2 separate regions of the Homo sapiens genome follow, and region 1 is linked to region 2. A link means that fine-mapping ties the variant in region 2 to the expression of a gene that starts in the linked region. Tissue or cell type: whole blood. Region 2 holds a variant in brackets; the other region holds the start of a gene. All regions are shown on one strand. Distances are between the middles of the regions.

Region 1 (11,241 bases), 420 kb before region 2:
ATGAGGATACACCTAGTGTACAGACACCAGTGCAAGTAAGCCCCTCAAGAAGCTATCATGAACTAAAAGACAACCCAGGGGCCTATATGTACAGGTCTGCGACCCAGTATTCACCAACTGCAGATTGTGTAAATGCCATACGCTAAGGTGCCTTGGGGAGAAGGGCAATAAATCAAAGAGTCTGCCCTGGAGCATACTGAGTTTCTTTTTATTGAAAAATCTTGTTTTGTATTGTTTACTTTTCCCTTGAAAATCACAGGATGTTATATCATAAGCAATAATAAAAGTTATTCAAAACAGAAAACCCTACATTTCTCTTTATAAATATTAGTGTGTTAAATATTAGTGTGTTAGTGTATTAACAGCTCTATTGAGGTGTAACTAACATATACTAAACTGCAATAAACTGAATCAATTTAAACTGATAAGTTTTAAGATAGATACATGCCTGAAAAACCTCACCACAAGCAAAACAATTAACATTTCCACCTCTCATGCTCCTTTGCAATCCCTCCCTTTTTTCATTCCTCTTCACTATCTATCCTCAGACAGCCACTTATTTTCCTTCTATCAGTGATGATTAGTTTCCACTTTCTAGAGCCTTAAATAAGTAGAATCATACAGTATCTATTCTTTTTTTTTCTGGCTTCTGACATTCAGTTTGATTATTTTGAATTTCATCCATGTTATTGCTTGTATCAGTAGTTCACTTCTTTTTACTGCTGAGTTGGATTTCATTGTACAGTTATGCCATAATTTATTTATCCATTCATCTGTTTATGGAAATTTGGGTTGTTTTCAGTTTTTGGCTATTAAAAATAAAGCTGCTTATGAGAATCCCCATTGTGGCACATCTTCACTAACACTTGTGGTGGTTAACTCTTTTTCATCTTAGCCATCTTTATCAGTGTGTAGCGATATCTCATTGTGGTTTTATTTTCATTTCCATAATTACTAATTATTTTGACCATACTTTTATGTTCTTTCTTTGTCTCTTACTTGGTTATGTGTGTTTTCAAATCTTTTGCCTATTTTGGGGGGGTTTATTGTCTTCCAATTATTGAGTTTTGAGAGTTCTGTATATATTTGCAAACAAGTTCTTTATTAGTTATGCGATTTTTAAATATTTTCTTCTACTATATAGCTTCTTTTCACTCACTTGAAAGTGTCTTTTGAAGGCCAGAAGTAGCTAAGAAATGCTTGCTTAGCTATCTAAGAGGGCTTCTTAGATGAAATACCTAAGAAATCTCTACCTAACCCAAGGTCACAAAGAGTTTTATTCTGTGTTTTCTTTGAGGGAGAGGAGTGACCTCTGAAAACTCAAGGTGCTGAAAATAAAAAAGAATTTATTTTGTAGCCAGTCTGTTACTGCCATGAAATATATTTCAAGGTTTTAGCCTCCCAGATGGTGCTCTTTGGGATGAAAACAAATTGAAGCATTTGCCCAAGGAAAACAAAATTGACATGTTCGAATAATTTTAAAATTTCTTCTAAAGATTAGAATATATTAATTCAGTTGTTATCTTGGACTCTGACTTCTTCTGTACCAGTGGATAACTGAAAGTTGAATATACATACTTCAGTAATGTAACTATCACTGAATGTTTTGTTTTGGGTTAAAATTTTGGGAATAGAAAACTCATACTAGATTTAATTCATTCATCCAACATATTTATGGATACTTACTATGCCAAGCACTGTACTAGGGGCTTTTATCCATTTTCATCTATAAATTTTATTATTTGATCTTTCTAATAACTGTGTGCTTTTGGCAAAAGAAACTTCATTTTTAAAGGTTAAAAGTTGTCAAATTCTCACTGTTAGTGAGAGAGAAGCCTCTGAGAATCTATAATCTAGTTAAATAGTCAAGTACCTTGACAACAACAATACCCTAAGATAAATACCAACATAGACATACGTTAGCCTATGTGACTCCCAGAGGGGATCTTTGGGAAGGCTTTTAAAGAATGAATAGAATTTTGACAGGTAAGTACTGGGCTGTGATAAGGGGAGGAGGTAGAATAGAAAAAGTAGACGGGAAATTTTTCACAGAGGCACATTGGCCAGAGAATGCCTGGTGTGGTCATGGAACAGCAGGTTGCTGTGATTTTTGGTAAGGGGATAGGATGGTAGGAGATGTCAGCATGTGACAGGTTTAGGGGCAAGAAGAGATATACTGTAGCAGGCAACGGGGAGTCAGCAAAAGATTTAGACCAGGAGAATGGCTACATCAGAACTGTGTTTTAAGAAATATTTTTGCCATCCTTAAATAATCTATGGCAGTCTGGGTAGAAGGAGGAAAGAGATTGGAGGCAGGGAGGCTGGGGGAGGCCATCTTGATAATGCTGGCAGGACGTGGGCAGGACTGGGAACTGACCAGGGGAAAGGGAGAATTTCACTTTTCATACAAAATGTTCTCTCCTAAGCTCTTTTTGTACTCTTTCCTTGGGAAATAACGTAGAATCAGCTAACTGCTTGATTTGAAAGGATTTTTTATTTTTCGACTGATTGGCTTGTTCTTTTTTGGCAACTAAAAAGGGCCTCTTTTTGTGCAGCAGAAAGATATAACCCAAGACGCTCCAGAAAGTCAACTGAGTTATGATGTAAAGAATGGATGTGAGGGAGGCCAATTACTCCTCACCCAGGTACTGGAAAATAAGGAATGGACAAAGAACACTACTGATTAGTAGGAGATCTGGAAAGGATGGGATCAATCGAATTTGATTGGATGGGGTGCTTAATGATGACTCCCCAATTTAAAATCAAGTGGCTAGAAAAATGGTGGTCTTTCTGTGGGAAATAATGATTTAGGAAGAGAGATAGTATGCTTATTTTAAATAGGTTGAATTGGAAGACGTTCCAAAGATAGTCCAAACAATAGGACTTTCATGAGGAAATATCCAAAAGCTGCTCAAAGGCCAGAGATAGTATTCATAAAAGAAGAAAGGGCTGAAAATAATAGTCAAAAGTTGTCCACATGGAGATAAAGCCATGTGTGGTTGTCTATGCTGAGGGATAACATGGTGACAAATGGATGGTGACTAAGGGCAGACTTTTGAGGAAATACAGCAGGAGAAGAAGACCCATCCAGAGAGACAGAAGGGACATAAGGCAAGAGACGTAGAATATGTAGAACTTCAGGGGTAAATGGCAGACAGACAGAACTGGTAAAATGCAGCAGACCTGTCAATGAGGATGTGGATGCAGGGGCTGTGTTTGGTGACAAAGGATCAATTCTTCTGGGCAGGCTTTCCACCTTCTCCCTCCTGCCCCACTGCAGGCCATCTGGGACTTTACTTTCTCTCTTGCTGCTTAACCTGATCAGAGATAGCATTGATAATGGGTTAGCCACCAGTTTACCCTTTAGATCAAATGTTCTGTAAAAGCAAGGACCGTGGGGCATCATCCTGCAAGGTGATACAGGATAGGGATTCGGCGAAAAATTAACATGCTCGCGGACGGAGCAGTGTCAGGAGAGTCAAACTGTAAGGTATTATGGAACAGGAAGATGGTAGGAAATGAAAGAAGCACCTGATCAGAGAAGGCAGGCAGGGAGTTATTAGAAGATTCCATTGAGAGAGAAACAGAAAGAATACAATGTTTAATTATATGCTAAGAGAGAGTTGTCTATGTCCCTAAAGTGCAGTGAAAGCCAATGGAAAGGAGGGGATGACGATGCAAGAAGAGGCGATGGTTAACTACTGATGCAGTGAGTCTGAGAAGGGACTGGTAAACACAAAGTTGGGGTTAACCTCCGACTGAGGGCAGGGTATGAGAGAAGGTGCAGAGAAATGTAGAGGTGAGAGGTAGGCATAGTGAATGGAATGGACTATGAAAAAAGGAAGCCACGGCCTAATGGGAAACAAACAAGAAATCCCACCAACCTTGAAGTTCTGATACTGCCATTTTATCAATTGTGTGACCTGTGCCAAGTGACTTAACATTTTTTTAATGCCTCAACTTCCCTTTTGGTAAAAATGGGGGCGCTAACTTCCAACTCCAAAACCAGGTGCCATTGTCCCACTTACTTGCAAGTGCCTTCTTAGATGTTTCTGTTTTTGTTTTAACGTTTCCCTTTCTGGGCAGAGGAGCTTGAAGATGGGCTGGATCTTATTAGCAAAGCAGGAGGGTGGGTCATCTGTGTACGGAGACAGTGATGTCATAAGCCTGAGAGATCACGAAGGGGTTGTAGCAGTGCTGGGCATAGGCTAGAGAAATTAACACAACGTGAATAAAGATTTGCAGGCACCAGTGAGAACCCAAGGGAGATTAGAGAGCAGGGAGGCCTGATAGAAGAGGAATCAGGCCCCTAGCTGAAAAAGTGTTGGGGAGGTGTGCTACAAACTTCGTTTTATTTTTATTTATTTTTTGAGACAGGATCTCGCTCTGTTACCCAGGCTGGAGTGTAGCCGCGTGATCTTGGCTCATTGCAGCCTCGACCTCCCAGGCTCAAGCGATCCTCCCACCTCAGCCTCTGGAGTAGCTGGGACCACAGGCCCGCGTCACCATGCCCGACTAATTTTTGTACATTTAGTAGAGACGCGTTTTCGCTATGTTGCCCAGGCTGGTCTCGAACTCCTGGGCTCAAAAGATCCTCCCGCCTCGGCCTCCCAAAGTGCTGGGATTATAGGCATTAGCCACTGCGCCCGGCACAAGCTTCGTGTCTGAACCTGGCTCACCGGTGGGCATTGAGCAGAGCCCACCCTGGAATCCACTCATCTCGGGAGGTTTGGGGATGGGCTTCAGCGAGTTCGGAGGCCCCGGAAATCGCCCAGATGCATTAATTTCCAGAAGGCTTGCAAGGGGGTCTCAACACAAAGATTAGGAAGCTGTAACCAGAGTTTGGTAACCCCACCGGGAACGCGAGCCGCCTCCCAGCCTTGCGCCCTGACGCGCTCTAGCAGTGCTGCAGAAACTTCGAGAACTTCGTTTTCATCTCTTCCCCAACGCACGACCTCGGGCTTTTTCTTTTTGTAAACTGCTGAGTGTGGAGAGGCCCCGCCCTTCCGCGCCCAGCCGCGGGGCCGCCCCTGCCTCCTCCCCGGTACTCCTTCCTGGACCGCGCTGGAAGCCCTGGCGGCGGCGGCCCATGGGGCCCTTGGCGCTGCCCGCCTGGCTGCAGCCCAGGTAGGGCGCTCGGCCGAATCCCGAGGGGAGGGGGCGCGGGTGGAGGGCCTGGAGGCGGGAGCTCCCCTCTGCGGCGGGCGGGCGGGCGGCACCCCCCGCCCGCCAGCAAGGCGCAGCGCTACCGTGCCCAGGCACCCCTTGGAGCTCATGCAGGTATTTGCTAACTTACCCCTCTTGACCACCCTAGGAAGCAGGCTCTGTTATTTTCTCCATTTTACAGTTGAATGGGAAGGACAGGCTGCATGGCTACCCCTGCCCTTGTGAGCCCTCTGCCAGTACTTCCCTCCCCCCAGGAGCCTTCTCTTGACTTTCTCAGACGCAGAGTTGCGGGGTGATTTTTAGATGTAACAGCCGTGGAAACACCTATCACACGTATAGATTTCAGGGCCTAGTTCCGGCGGGGAACAGATTCAGTCATATAGCGGTAGGGCCTGGGGGTGTATATGTTTAACCCACAAGCCAGGTAATTCTGATACAAGCTGAAGGAGGATTTCCTCTTCCCAAACCCTTTAGCAGTTCCTGCCTTTATAGGGGAGGATGTCCCCAAATAAAAATCATTCTGCCTCCCAGCTTATTTTCCTTGTTTCTAGGAGGTTTCACATCTTCAAGGAGGAGTAAATCTTGACCACACTGGCAGGGCCACTCCCGTCACTCTTCTGAACTCCCAGGGAACATTTCAAACAGTGCTTTTCCTAACTCCCTCAAACCATCTATCTGTCAATCTTCTCTTAGTCATCTCCCCAGCAACTCACAACACATTGTTAAACCCAGCTTGACTTCCCTCTTCTGGTATGAGCAACTAAACTGCTTTCGATATGTATCTGATGAAGGAAACTATCTACCCTTGCAAAATGTTAATAGGCAGTGGCAAGATGTTAATACTAACCTCAATCACATAATGTGTTCAAAAGTCAGGTGTGTCCAATTACTGAATTACCCAACATTTGGATTACTCCCATCCCTACCCCCCTTCAGAACTAAAACACTGTGTCTCAAGTTCTGCACTTAGCAAGCTGAGCTACTGGAACACATAGTGACATGTCAACCACTCTGCACACATGGATTTTTTGTTGTTGTTGTTGTTTTGTTTTTTATTTTTTATTTATTTTTGAGAACAGAGTTTTGATCTGTCGCCCAGGCTGGAGTGCAGTGGCGCTGTCTCGGTTCACTGCAGCCTCTACCTCCCAGGTTCAAGTGATTGTCCTGCCTCAGCCTCCTGAGCAGCTAGGTAGCTGGGATTACAGGCATACGTTACCACATCCGGCTTTTTTTTTTTTTTTTTTGTAAGTTGCCATGTTGGCCAGGCTGGTCTTGAACTTCTGGCCTCAAGTGATCCAACCCGCCTTGGCCTCCCAAAGTGCTGGGATTACATGCCTGAGCCACCGCGCCCAGCCTGTTTTGTTTTTTTAAAGAATATTCAAAGCCACCTTCGCAGTGGTTTCTTTTATTCCTTGGTGAGCAGCAAGGTTAGAACTTTATCAAAGATGAAAGCAGATTTTGAAAAAGCACTATATTTGGTTTTAAGCAAACTCACTATACAGATGGTCCATGACTCACAATTTTTTAAACTTTGTGATGGTGTGAAAATGATATGTATTCATTAGAAACCGTACTTCAAATTTTGGATTTTAATCTTTCCCCAGGCTAGCGATGTGCAGGTATGATATCCTTTCATGATGCTGGGCCGCGGCATCAGGCCGCAGCTCCCAGTCGGCCGCATGATCAGGAAGGTAAACAACCGGTACTCCACAGTGCACTGTGTTGCCAGATGATTCCACCCAACTGTAAGCTAATGTAGGTGTTCTGAGCAAGTTTAAGGTAGACTAGGCTAAGCTGTGATGTTCTGTAGATCAGTTGTATTACATGCATTTTCAACTTATGATATTTTCAGTTTATGATATTTTCAGCTGATGGGGTGTACCAGGACGTAACTTCATCATAAGTGAAGAAGCATCTGTATTTACTTTAGCGGGTAGTGTAGGTTATGGCTCCCTTCAAAATCTGATATGTACTTGGGGGTAACCAGATAAAAGACTGATATGAAACAGTTTTCTTTTGCTTTCTCAGGTTGGCCAGTACATTAAAGGGCATGTGTACAGTGATGAAAGGATGATTATAAAAGAAGTGTTTAATGGTATTTTCCTGTATTTATAGGTATAGGAAGAATGCGTATCTTTTCATCTATTACTTAATCCAGTTCTGTGGCCACTCTTGGATATTTACAAATATGACAGTCAGATTCTTTTCATTTGGAAAAGGTAAAACTCCGAAACAGTTTTTTTATTTTTAACTTTTAATCCTTGTTTTCACCTCATCCTGCTTATATTAAATTTCTACACACCTCAACCTTCTAATATCCTTCTCTAAAATTTGTATTTTTTAGCAACCATGTTTATTGCAAAACCTTCTTGGGGAAGGGGGAAGGTGGGATAAGTAAGGGAAAGGGATTTGGCTTCCCCCTGAGTTGGCAGTTTGCCTCAAAAAAGAGATGGATGGCACTGAGGTGGTATCATTTCATTGTTCCTTTTCCATTCTGTACCAAACCTTAGCAGATTTCTAGTGTTTTGAGGAAATCTCAGCATAACATTTTATGCAGAGAAATCAGGAATGAATCAAATTCTTCCAGTGTTTGTATTATTCCCCAGGTTTGAGGTAACTGGAGACTACTAGTAAGTGAAATACAAATTTTATATTCCCCAAGCCTCTATTTGGTCCCTTTAAGAAGTAATATGTAAATGACACACTTTGTAGAGGGCTAACCACTTATATAGGAGTCAGCATTAATGGTTTAAGTCATAAACTTCCTCTAGTTTCCTGAAAAGTAAAGTCACTGTTGGGTGACTAAATGACTATCAAAATAACATTCTCTTCATGTTCCATCCGCACGTGGGTAAGTGTCCTCACAGTTTACAACTGTTGAGTGACTTGACAATCTAAGCAACTGCTGGCTTCAGCTAAAAACAAATGTTTAGAATGTAGCTGGGAAAAGTCATGCTGTGCTCATCATTTCAGACGTGTGTATCATAAGGAAGTTATTCTACTTGCAGGGTCCCATAAGCTATTTTATGTTGCTTTTTCTTACTGAAAATCTACAGATATAGTCTCGCCTTTGTTAAGGACCTCCAAAGATATAACCTAAAGCTTGAGTTTCAACTACAAATGTTGAGAGTTTTCAAGCACAGGAAAACACAGGTGATGGGAAAACTTCTTTTATATTTTTATTAAAAAGCCATCACTTCTAGCCCTTTGAGGTTTGCTGAGGCAGTGCAGGCATATTACATGTCATTGGCAACACAAGCCATGGACTGGCTTATGCTGTCTCACCTTTCCAGTGAGAAAAGTTGCCTTAGTCATCAAGTATTTCTTTTTCTTTTCTTTCTTTTTTTTTCTTTTCTTTTTTCTTTTTTTTTTTTTTTTGAGATGGAGTTTCCCTCTTGTCGCCCAGGCTGGAGTGCAATGGTACGATGTCACCTCACTGCAACCTCTGTCTCCCAGGTTCAAGTGATTCTCCTGCCTCAGTTCCCTGAGTAGCTGGGATTACAGGTGCCCGCCACCATGCCTGGCTAATTTTTGTATTTTCAGTAGACACGGGGTTTCACCACATTGGCCAGGCTGGTATTGAACTCCTGACCAAAGGTGATCCGCCTGCCTCAGCCTCCCAAAGTGCTGGGATTACAGGCGTGAGCCACTGTGCCCGGCTCGGCGCATTTCTTTCTCAGTTATTATCCTGCCATTACAATTGTAGAAGCTTATTATTAAAGAAACACAACCGATTCGTTCAGGAGACAGACTGAAAACAACTAAGTGTGGTTTCAGTACAATTTTTGAATCAATGTATAAATTATGTAAGTAGCTCAACAGAAACCTGAAACCCTGAACGTGTTATACCTGCTACCTTCTTCCTTCACGGAGCTGTGTAATTCATAATGCTCTGGTACAGCAAGTGCAGGGCAGTGGATAAGAGCATGGACTGTGTACTTCAGGAACCATCTCTGAAATGGGGATGATGATAATAGTGTCCATCTTGTGGAGCTGCCGAGAAGAGAAATCCTTACTGCTCAGTAAATTATTATTGTGTGAATCATCACTGGGCAGTAAAGAGAGCAAAATCTTCCCTACGAGTTTCTAAACATGGCAGGATTTCATTTTAGAACTTAAAGCAACACATTTATCCTATGTAGAGGAACATTTGTTTCCCTTCCATTTCAGCTCCAAGTGCACAGTATTTCATGTGAACCCTCTGCAATGCAAACCCCAAAAGTCCTGATCAGAGGCCCAAGTTCCAGTGTTTAACAAAATCCAGAAAAGCACTAACCAAATATGTATAGAAACAAAATCCTAGATACCTATGTTATTTGATATCATGGCATTATTAGTGTCATTTCCATAAAGTTTCTCCGAAATAATATTTTTTCTCATCTTTGTCATTTTCTTGTCAGTGGAGAAGCTGTGAGCACATAGTGTCCTTAACAAGCTCACTTCTATTTACACTTGAGGTGGTCTAGATTCTAGGAGGTTACTCTTATGTGGGAATTGCTTTATAATCTTATAAGTGGGGAATAAATGCTATGTGTATGTTTGGCCATGAAATCTTTCTCAAGTTTCGATTTCTTTTTGGAACAGGAGCAATTAAAATAGACTACAGTATGAAGTGCTTTGTTTGTTTGCATTGTATTGTTAATAATTTAGTAGCCTACTTAAGGAATTTTTCACATGTACAATGAAAAAGGAAGTGAATAATCTCCATTTGACTTCAAAGTGCTGCATAAATTTGGGTTATAATCCAGTTTTTTCTTCCTATATCTGCATTTTTAACCCACGGGATACAGATTCAATGGTTGACACTTTTTATGCTATTGGACTTGTGATGCGACTTTGCCAATCCGTATCTCTCCTGGAACTGCTGCACATATATGTTGGCATTGAGTCAAACCATCTTCTCCCAAGGTTTTTGCAGGTAGGTTTGAATCACATATTATTATAGAATCTGTTTCATTTTTACATTTTTTCTCTTTAAAGCTTCTCTTGACTTTATGGCAGTTAGAAAGCCAACCCTTGTCTTAGGTCACTGATAAGGAGAATTAATTTCATGGAAGGACAACCTTATTGTAAAACTGCCCAGTTAGAATAACCAGTTGGAAACACTGAGGGCAGTGATGCTTGCTGATCTTGCAGCACTGCATTGGTCCTATCCTGGAAGGAGATTTCGTAGCCACTTGCTACCCTCACTGTGTCACTGCCTGGGTTAGTAGAAGACAATGATAAGGCATAGGACTGGAGACTTAGGCTTGAAGCCTGGCTTTTCTGCTTACCACTATGGGATCATACCACCCATACTATGGGAACAACCATTGGGCTGTTGAGGGAAAGGACACCACAAATAATACCTGGCAAAGAGTAGATGATTAAAAAACAAAAGGCTTCCTTCATCTACATCCAGAGAATAGAGTACTCCTAGGCCATTTCTTGCTCATTCCCTCTTTTTTACTAAACGTCAATGGAAAGAGGAGATCATTTGTGTTTATCTAGTACAGCATCTAAGGATAGACTTGGGGAACACACAGACCCGGATTCAAATCCCAGTTCTACTTTGCACTAGTTGTATACATTTAAACAAGTCATTTAATCATTCTGAACTGCATTTTCTCATGTGATATGAAAATAACATGTATCTTATGAAGTAACTGAGAAAATGGATAAGTTCCTGGCACTTAGTTAAGAATACAATACTCGGCAGCTATTATTACTATTTTCTTAACTATTCTTTGTTCCCTCTTCCATGCCTCTAGCCCTAGATTACCATGTTCTTTGTAAAGACAGGTTGAAGGAAGATGGGAAATTTACTAGTAGTGACTTCATGTAGAAAATCATTGCTGGATAAAGGCAAAAAAATAAAAATAAAGATTTTCTGTAAATTTTATATAGCTCATATAGTTGTCCCTTTCTTATGGGACAGTAAAGGTTAGGCAACTATAAGAACACGAGTTTCAAGTCTACAGAAATAGGTATCTACATGAGTATAATTTTAGGTATCCTCAAAATAAATTTGAAAAATTGATAATTTTGACAATTTCACATTGTAAAAATAATGAAAATGTCAGAATTTTATGGTGT
Region 2 (8,000 bases):
ATCATCTTTTAAAATTGTTGGATTTTTCTGGTATGACATTGTATATGGATTTATTATACTTCTTTTGGATTGTTCCCAGTTTTGATTTGTTATGAATAGTGCTGTGGTGGACATCTTTGACATTCATTTTAATGGTTTTTCTAATAATTTGTTTATGTTAAATTTCTAGAAGGGAGGTTGTGGAGTCAAAAGGTATACAGAGTTAAAATTTTGTTATATATTACCAAACTTTCCTCCAAAAAGATTGTCCCAGTTTATATTTCCTCAGGCATATAAACTGGAAATTAACAGCTTAAAAAAATCTTTGCCAATCTGTGTGGAAAAACTGCCTCATTTTGGTTTGCATTTATATGATTAGCAGTGCCACATATCTTTCATTATGTATTTATTTACCGTTTGTCTTTTGTGATGTGCCTTTTTTGTCCTTTGTAGTCCATGGCTGCTTTTTTAATTAAAAAAAAAAAAGCATGGGGAAATGCAGAGAATGATATAACAAACATTCAAATCCCCACTACCAAGAATGAATAAATGTTTACATATTATCTTATTTGATTCCTTGTTTGGATTCTGGAGAATTAACTATTATAGATGCAGCTAATGTTTTAAAATGCTTCCCAGCCTTTTCTTCCAACCCTTCAGTCTGTCTTCCATTCTATTTATTTTGCACATATATGTTGCTTACAAATAATAATGTATTGTGTCTTAAAATCAACGTGAAGAGGATCATGCTAGTGAATCTTTTTTTTACAATTGAGATATAATTCACATGCAAAATTTACCCTTTTAAAGTGTGCAAGTCTGTGGTTTTTAGTATATTCATAAGGTTGTGTAACCATTGCCATTATTTAATACCAGAATATTTTTATGAGTGAATACATTTGCATCTTGCTTTTTTCCCCCACTCAATTCTGTTTCTGAACCTGTCCACATTTCATCTATAAAGAGCCACGTCATTCTCTTTAATTTCTTCTGCTTAGTATTTCATCATGGGAATATATTGTATACTTTACTTTTCTGTTTTCCTATTAAGAAATAAATAGGTCATTTTCTGTTCTGTGCAGTGAGCATCTTTGTGCATGTTACCTTGTGCAGATGAACAAGGGTTTGGACATAGGCCTAGATTTTGAGTTATTGAGTTGTGGGCACGTGTGTCTTCATTTGTACTAGCTGCTGTCAGATTGCTCTAAAAAGTGGTTCTGACAGTTTATACTCTGTCAAGAAAATGAGTACCATTTTTCCTCTATATCTTTGCCAATTTTGGCTATTTTAATATTTCCTATTTTTCAGAGTTGAAATTTGGTATCTTTTTGTTTTCATTTACATTTCTCTGGTTCCTGGTGGGATTAAGCATTTTATATATATATATTGACTATTTTGATTTCCTCTTTATTGACTTCTTTTTATATCCTTTTTCTTAAAAGAAAAGATTGGGTTGCTTGTCATTTTCTTGTTTGTAGGATGTTCTTCCTTTGTTATTTTTGTTGAAAATATCTTGCCTCATTTTTTTCTTTTATCTTGATTTATGGTATCTTTTTGCCATATGCAAGCTTTTAATTTTGTCAAACTGATGTGCTTTATTTTGTTTTGTTTTCCTCTCTGGGCTTAGGGTCTTATTTAAGAATTTAGTTCGTGGCCATAGTAATGTGCTTAACCAAAAGGCAATATATATGTAGGATACAGTGAAAGACTGAGGGAGATACAAATAAGAGTAAGAGGAGGTCCCTGCCTTCAGTGTGCTGTGTCTTTTTAGAGCTGGAAAGGACACTTGAGATTCTTCATCTTCGATTACCCTTTCATTTTACTTTTAATCAGAAGCCTAGAAATGTGGAGCAATCTTGCATGTAGACACAATGAGTCACAAGTATGCCTGTGCAAAGATAACTAGTAATAAATGGTGGTCAATGTTTACTTTTAAAACATTGAGTAATAATTCACTTATATTAGCAGACAAATGTTCAGCAATAGCTGCTTTTGTAGACATGATCTAGGATTTAATTAAGTGGTGGTAACCATGGTAGATGCTGTTTAAAAGGAAAAAGTTCTATAGCTACTTTCAGACAAAATCAAATTCTCTATATGAATTAAAGTTTTCCTTTGAGATTAAATCATTAGAAAAAATTGTTGCTGGGTGGTAGTTATCTCCTGATATTTTGTCCCCAATTCACCCAGTGGTAAGAATTGCAATTACATGAAGGATGCAGGGTGTTGTTTTAAGAAGTAATGTTGCATGACTTAATCCTTTTGACTTAAGTGTGGTAAGTTTGCAGTGGTTGACGACTGAAGAAGGCTATTACGATAGAATTTCTAAAAAGATAAGGCCAGCATTTGGGTGTGATTTAGTTGGTATGTAGCAGTTAACAATTAACTTTTTGGATAAAATCAAGTCACCATTTTTTTTATTAAAGAAAATTATGGCTTATCTTTAAAATAGTGTTCATTAGTGATTATAAATATAATTAGTTACCTTTAATTAGTTACACATATTAGAAGGTTGATATTCTCAAAGCCAAGTTAATTTTTTTCTATTTTAAAATATTTGATTTTGTCAAAACTAGATTTTTTTTCTTTGTTCCTTTCCAGTAGAAATTATTAGTTATTTCCTCATCAATACCAGGCAAAATGCTCTGTGTGTGTATATTGATTTTTAAAAGCAAAATATATATTAACAGTTTCCTGAAGTATTAATAATAATAGCAGTGGCTTGGAGAGTAGGGAGGTAATTTGCCTCTTAATGTTTTCAGATATAAATTTTGTCTGAATGATGCCTTTTCATTTTTGCAGATAGGTTTTTATGTCCCATTTCCCCTGCCTCCCTCCAAGGATGGTACTGGGGATAGAATACTGTCTGATTATTCCAGGTATCTATTCATTTGATAAACATGTAAAACACTTTGGGTGTTTAAAAACCAGGTTCATTGTAGACTTTATATCATCTTTACCCTTTACCACAAATACTTCATTAATATGAATAATGAAAGCTAAATAATTACGACCTTTTTTATATTGAAGAAACATTCTTCTATTTCACATAGTATTTTCCTTCATTTTACTTATTTCTCTGTTTCTCTATAATAAGCAGCTGTTTTATAGAGTCAATGAAACATGGGGGATTTGGGCTGTTGAGATTTAGTTGCATTGAGTGGAACACGTTATTTGAAAATGTTGACCCAGTTCAAGATTGTCTGATGCTTGTTGTATGACTTTTTCTCTGTATGCACAGAAATAGTAACTAGTGGGCTGGAAGCTAACTTCCCTCATTTTATGGAGCACCAAAGCAGCACGTGTTATGTGTTACATGCTTTCATTAGACCAACACTCCCTTCTCTTTGTATATGTTATCTCTTTTTCCTCCTGTGTTGCATTAGAGTTACACATCAGAAAGGATGGGACCTATGTTATCACTGTAGATACTACTTATAGCTCCATCAATGTAATGTCTTGACCCTGGAATTTTTTGGCAACCGTATAAAGGCAGGTATTGCAAGTCAGAAAAAGGGTTTTAGAATCCCTGGCTTTACTTTCCACTCCTGTAAGTTATAAATTATTACTCAGATTTCTGAAACTCATTTCTTCTGCACCTCTAATAATTGACTTTGTGTAAACAGAACCACCACTTGAATTTAGCAGGAAACATTGTGTCTGCTGAGAATCACATTTTCTAGAATGTGTTCTAGCATTTGTAATAGGCAAAAATGAATTTTTCTCTTTTCTCTTTTTTCCCTTATTCTTTCTTCACTTACTTTGGATGCTTAAAAAGAAAAGCTAGACACAAACTTGAAGGACTTGGCCAGCTCTATCATTTTTTTACTACCTAATCCATGAAATACAACCAGCCTTTTAGCTTTAAAAATAAGAGTCTAATGTAATTCCAGTAACTGGTAGGAGCAGTATTTAGCAGTGTGGCAGGAAAGGCCCTGGCCTGGGAGGTAGAAAGGATGTGTTTGGACTGAATAAGCTGTGTGGGCTTTTGCAGCTCTGAAAATACTGTTTTTCCTTTAGTTTTAAAAAGGATAAATTCTGCAATTGTCATTGATCTAGTGTTTTTATAACAATGAAATAATAACTACCCTTTATTAAATAGCTATATTGGTTATCATGCTAGACAATAGACATGTGGAGTATTTAATTTCTGACTCTTCCTAAGTAGTAGTTCGGAGAATGATATTCTTGAGAAAATAAAATACCAATATAT[G/A]AACATCAGTGTATTGGAATTTTATCCTTTCTTATGGTGAATGGACAGTGAAATGGGTGAAAGACTTGCTGCAGTAATAGGGAAGTAGAAGATAACATGAGTAATTCACCAAATAAGGGATTAAGTTACACTTGTAAAAGTTAATTTCTGATCATATCGGTGCCATTCACCTCAACCATCAACTATTACTTGTAGATTGGAGCATTTCAAGAACTCAGAAGACCACCCAGTGTTGATAGGAAACTTCTTCCTCAATTATGGCTCTTGACCATGCCATTAGATCGTTGGGTTTTTCATGCTTTTTTGTCTTTTACATAAAATAGACCTTGAAATTGTGTCACTTAATTTGCTTTTCTGAAGTATCACTTACCAGATATTACTTGTGTTTTTATTATCAATAGAGTAATAATTGAGGACTGCCCATGTAAGCTAATTGAGGGCTGTCTGTATTATCATGTGAACAGATTAGAAGAAAGTATATGAAATTTTTGATCATCCAACATACTTGCATACATACATATAAGAATAAATAGGGTTTTCTATTTAATAATTCAAATGCTGAATTGAAGTTGTTTTGAAAAGCAAGTACTTTTCTACTCTTCAGTTGTAACATGCTGTATAACTTTTAGGTCAAAGAAAAAATAATTTTAGTTAGCATTCCAATTCTGTAAAGGAAATTGTCAAGCAATTGACTAGAGCCGATAATTTATCCAAAAATACACAAATGCAGACATTTAAAATAGAGCTGCAAATAAATAGGAATTTTCTTACATTGTAAAGGCTAAACAATAGCTTATAGTTAATGCTTCTTGACAGAGTATCTTTTTTAGGTTAACATCATTGATTCAGTTCATTTTCTGTGTTAGAATGGCTAGATTTGTTCATCTTTACCCCACATTTTGAGAAGTATGTGATAGATAAAAATACATCACTGAAAAGATGGGAAGAAATACTATCGTAGAATGTTAATATAAGTGATCTCTGGGACGTGGGATATCAGGAACTTCTTATTGTTGTCAGTAAAATTCGTTGGCTTTTTCAAGTTTTCTTGAATGACTCATATTATGTGAAAGTAAAACTAGTATTTAAATGTATGTATGGGCACATTTACAATAAGATTTTTAGTTTTTTCTACAAGTAATTTGGAACATGATTAAGACTGTCTTTCCCAAGAAACATTTTCAAATTTTGCTATTTGACATTTTTGCCACCTTGTCGTTTTGAGTCTTTTCCTTTAATGTTACTATGAGTATTTGCACAATGTTTCATAAGTTGATCGTAAGCTTTAAAGGGAGACATGTAGATAACGTTCTTACCTTTCTTAACATTTTGTATTGAAGTTATAAAAGTAATGAGATTAACCTGATTTATAAATGTGTATTCATATAGGATAGTCTTGGTAACAGAAAGATACCCATGTGTAATATATCAGTACAGTATACATTTTTGGAGTACTTAGGAATGTTTTGAAAAGTTCTGGCCCTTTTTTCCTGTGGAGTTTTGATAACTTTGATAATTAACATGTCTATCTTGCTGTGTAGTGTTAAAAATTTTTCTAGAGCCTACATCTGACTTTAAAAATCAACTACAAATAAAAAGACTGTCATCATGTTGCTTAGATATATGGTGATTATGTTGAAGAATAAATAGTATTGATAATTGGAAATAAAAGACTCAATTCCAATGTGTGCATCTTTGTATATAATTTGGAAGTTAAACATGAACTTTTAAGAAATAAAAAGTACCAAAACAAGTACCAAACATAAGGCATAGAGAAAAAAAGATTTAGGGCAGAGAAAGAAGTGGTCCTTTTTGGATGGAGAATTCATGCATAATTCCATAAATTCAAACTATTTTGATACTAAGATGATTTTATTAATATTTCATATATAAGCTACAAAAATAACTAGAGGTTTTTACAAAGGGAAATTAGTACATAATTTTATGTTTTATATACAATGCAGATTGATATGAATATTCCTTAAGCATAACTAAAAATGATTTCCGCAAAATGAGGAGGTTAATTTTAGTTGTCTCAAGGGTCTCTCTGCAATCTAAAATTTATCTAATTAAGTCCATGATTTTATAGTCCGTGAGAAAACACATTTGCATTTTGACATTAAACTTTAAAAGTGTACTGTGCACTAATGCATAGCAAAGCTATATGTCAAATAAAAATAAGGGCATTTTCCCTTTAGTAGTAGATGATTTTACAAAATCCATAAAATACAAATAGATTAACTCTACCTTAGAATGTTTGTGAAATATAAACAATGATGTTTATGATCTGGGTATTTCTTATTAGCTGCTTGAATAAAATTGCAACTTCAAATTCTATTTGCCAGCATTTGGAATAAGATTATATTCCATGAACTTAATTTAGTTCTGCTGACAAATTTCTGCTTAACTATGTCTATTCCTTTTGAGAGAATTCTAAATGTGATTGATAATGGCCTGGAATCCCTTCTTCAGGATTAAGGTGTATACAAGAATGAGGAAAATATACTCTTTGGCACAATGAGTACAGATGGCAATGTTTATTTGCTGCTTTTATTAGTAAGTTAATTTATATAGATGTCTTAACTGCAAAAATAAAATAATAGTTTTAAAATTAAGTAATTGTTTTAAAACTTGTTATAACCAAATACCCCAGACACCAAGTTGAAGAGTGGAGAGTTTGAGCAATATGAAGACCTGGTTTGAGTATTGCAAAGAGATTCCAAATTGGCACCAAATTAAATAAAAATACTCATAAAATTTTGTTATAGGACAGACAAAACTATGGTAGATGACGATAGTGTACAAATGGCCCTTATTTGGAGCATATGGAGTGGGAGCATATTTTGCAGTGAAAGAGGAACCAGAGGACAAGGTGTTCTCTACTTGTAGACTTGTAAAGACCTCTGAGTTTTCTTTATGTTATTGTAGAAAGACATTATTTTTGCTTTGGTGTGCTTAAAACTAAAGGGCAAATGATCCAAAAGAATAATCTTGAAATTCAATAGCAAGAGAACTACTTGACATTGTGGGCTGGAGGCCAGCAAACGTGGGGCTTTCATTGAATGCGTGGGAAATGGGGCAGGCCTGGAATTTAAAGAGACAGGGTGCAGTACCCTAGAAAAGAAAAGCCCTCCTGTATGATTTGCTTACTTGGAGAAAAAAAATAGACTTAAAGTTTTCTCTAAAGGATCTTTATTGGATCAACTGTTTAAGGCATTGAAAGACACTGAGTGAATTTTTCCTAACTCCACCTCCCACACTCCCTAGCCATCTTCTCTTGTCTGAAATTGGTGCAGAGTAAAATTGTTTATAACAGAGCACAAGCAGCTTTTCAAATAAAAGTACTTTGTAGCCTGTTCAAATGGAGTATAATGTAATTCTCTCTGAAATTGAGCACTTATTACTTTGTTTATGTAGCTGTTTTAAAAGTACGGGTGGGTGAAGGGGGTACGGCAGGAACCTCTGCTTTAGAAATTACTGTTTTTTTCTGAGTTTTCCTCCCCCATCCACTCATGAATCCGCCTTCACCCCTCCCCCACCTCCTGCAATCCCTCAATAAAATAGTATTTAAAAGACTTGAATAACCAGTCCTATGTACCAGCTTCTTGCTGGAGGCAATAATGTTCTATTTTCAATGGGTGGTCTTGAATCTCCATGGGAGATTTTACAGGCAGTGGGCTCCAAGACCCACTAAGTGTATTATATGAACATAACCAGCTAAATTTCCCAGCCATAGAGAATACGCAGGGATAGTTTTACGTTATTGAATTCTCGTCATTAATTACTTGCAAACTAATTTATTTAATTT

What was found. PIP is the estimated chance that this variant, and not a neighbour inherited with it, causes the effect.
Region 1: it holds the start of HACD4, and the variant in region 2 is fine-mapped to the expression of HACD4 in whole blood (TOPMed, PIP above 0.99).

What each region holds. Positions count from the first base shown.
Region 1 is chr9:21,025,439-21,036,679 of GRCh38, reverse strand. It overlaps HACD4 (3-hydroxyacyl-CoA dehydratase 4), which reads left to right and starts at 5,040. Exons shown (of 7, transcript NM_001010915.5): 1 at 5,040-5,127; 2 at 7,282-7,385; 3 at 9,957-10,084. The coding sequence starts at 5,090. LOC105375989 (a long non-coding RNA gene) reads right to left here and starts at 5,038. Exons shown (of 3, transcript XR_007061435.1): 1 at 4,680-5,038; 2 at 4,029-4,208; 3 at 2,761-3,317. RefSeq lists an enhancer at 4,701-5,261 and a silencer at 4,905-5,264.
Region 2 is chr9:20,606,053-20,614,052 of GRCh38, reverse strand. The region is part of intron 2 of MLLT3 (MLLT3 super elongation complex subunit); the gene reads left to right. Among named protein-coding and RNA genes, the nearest start is that of MLLT3, 12 kb to the left of the region's middle. The variant G/A (reference allele first, on the strand shown) is at 4,193.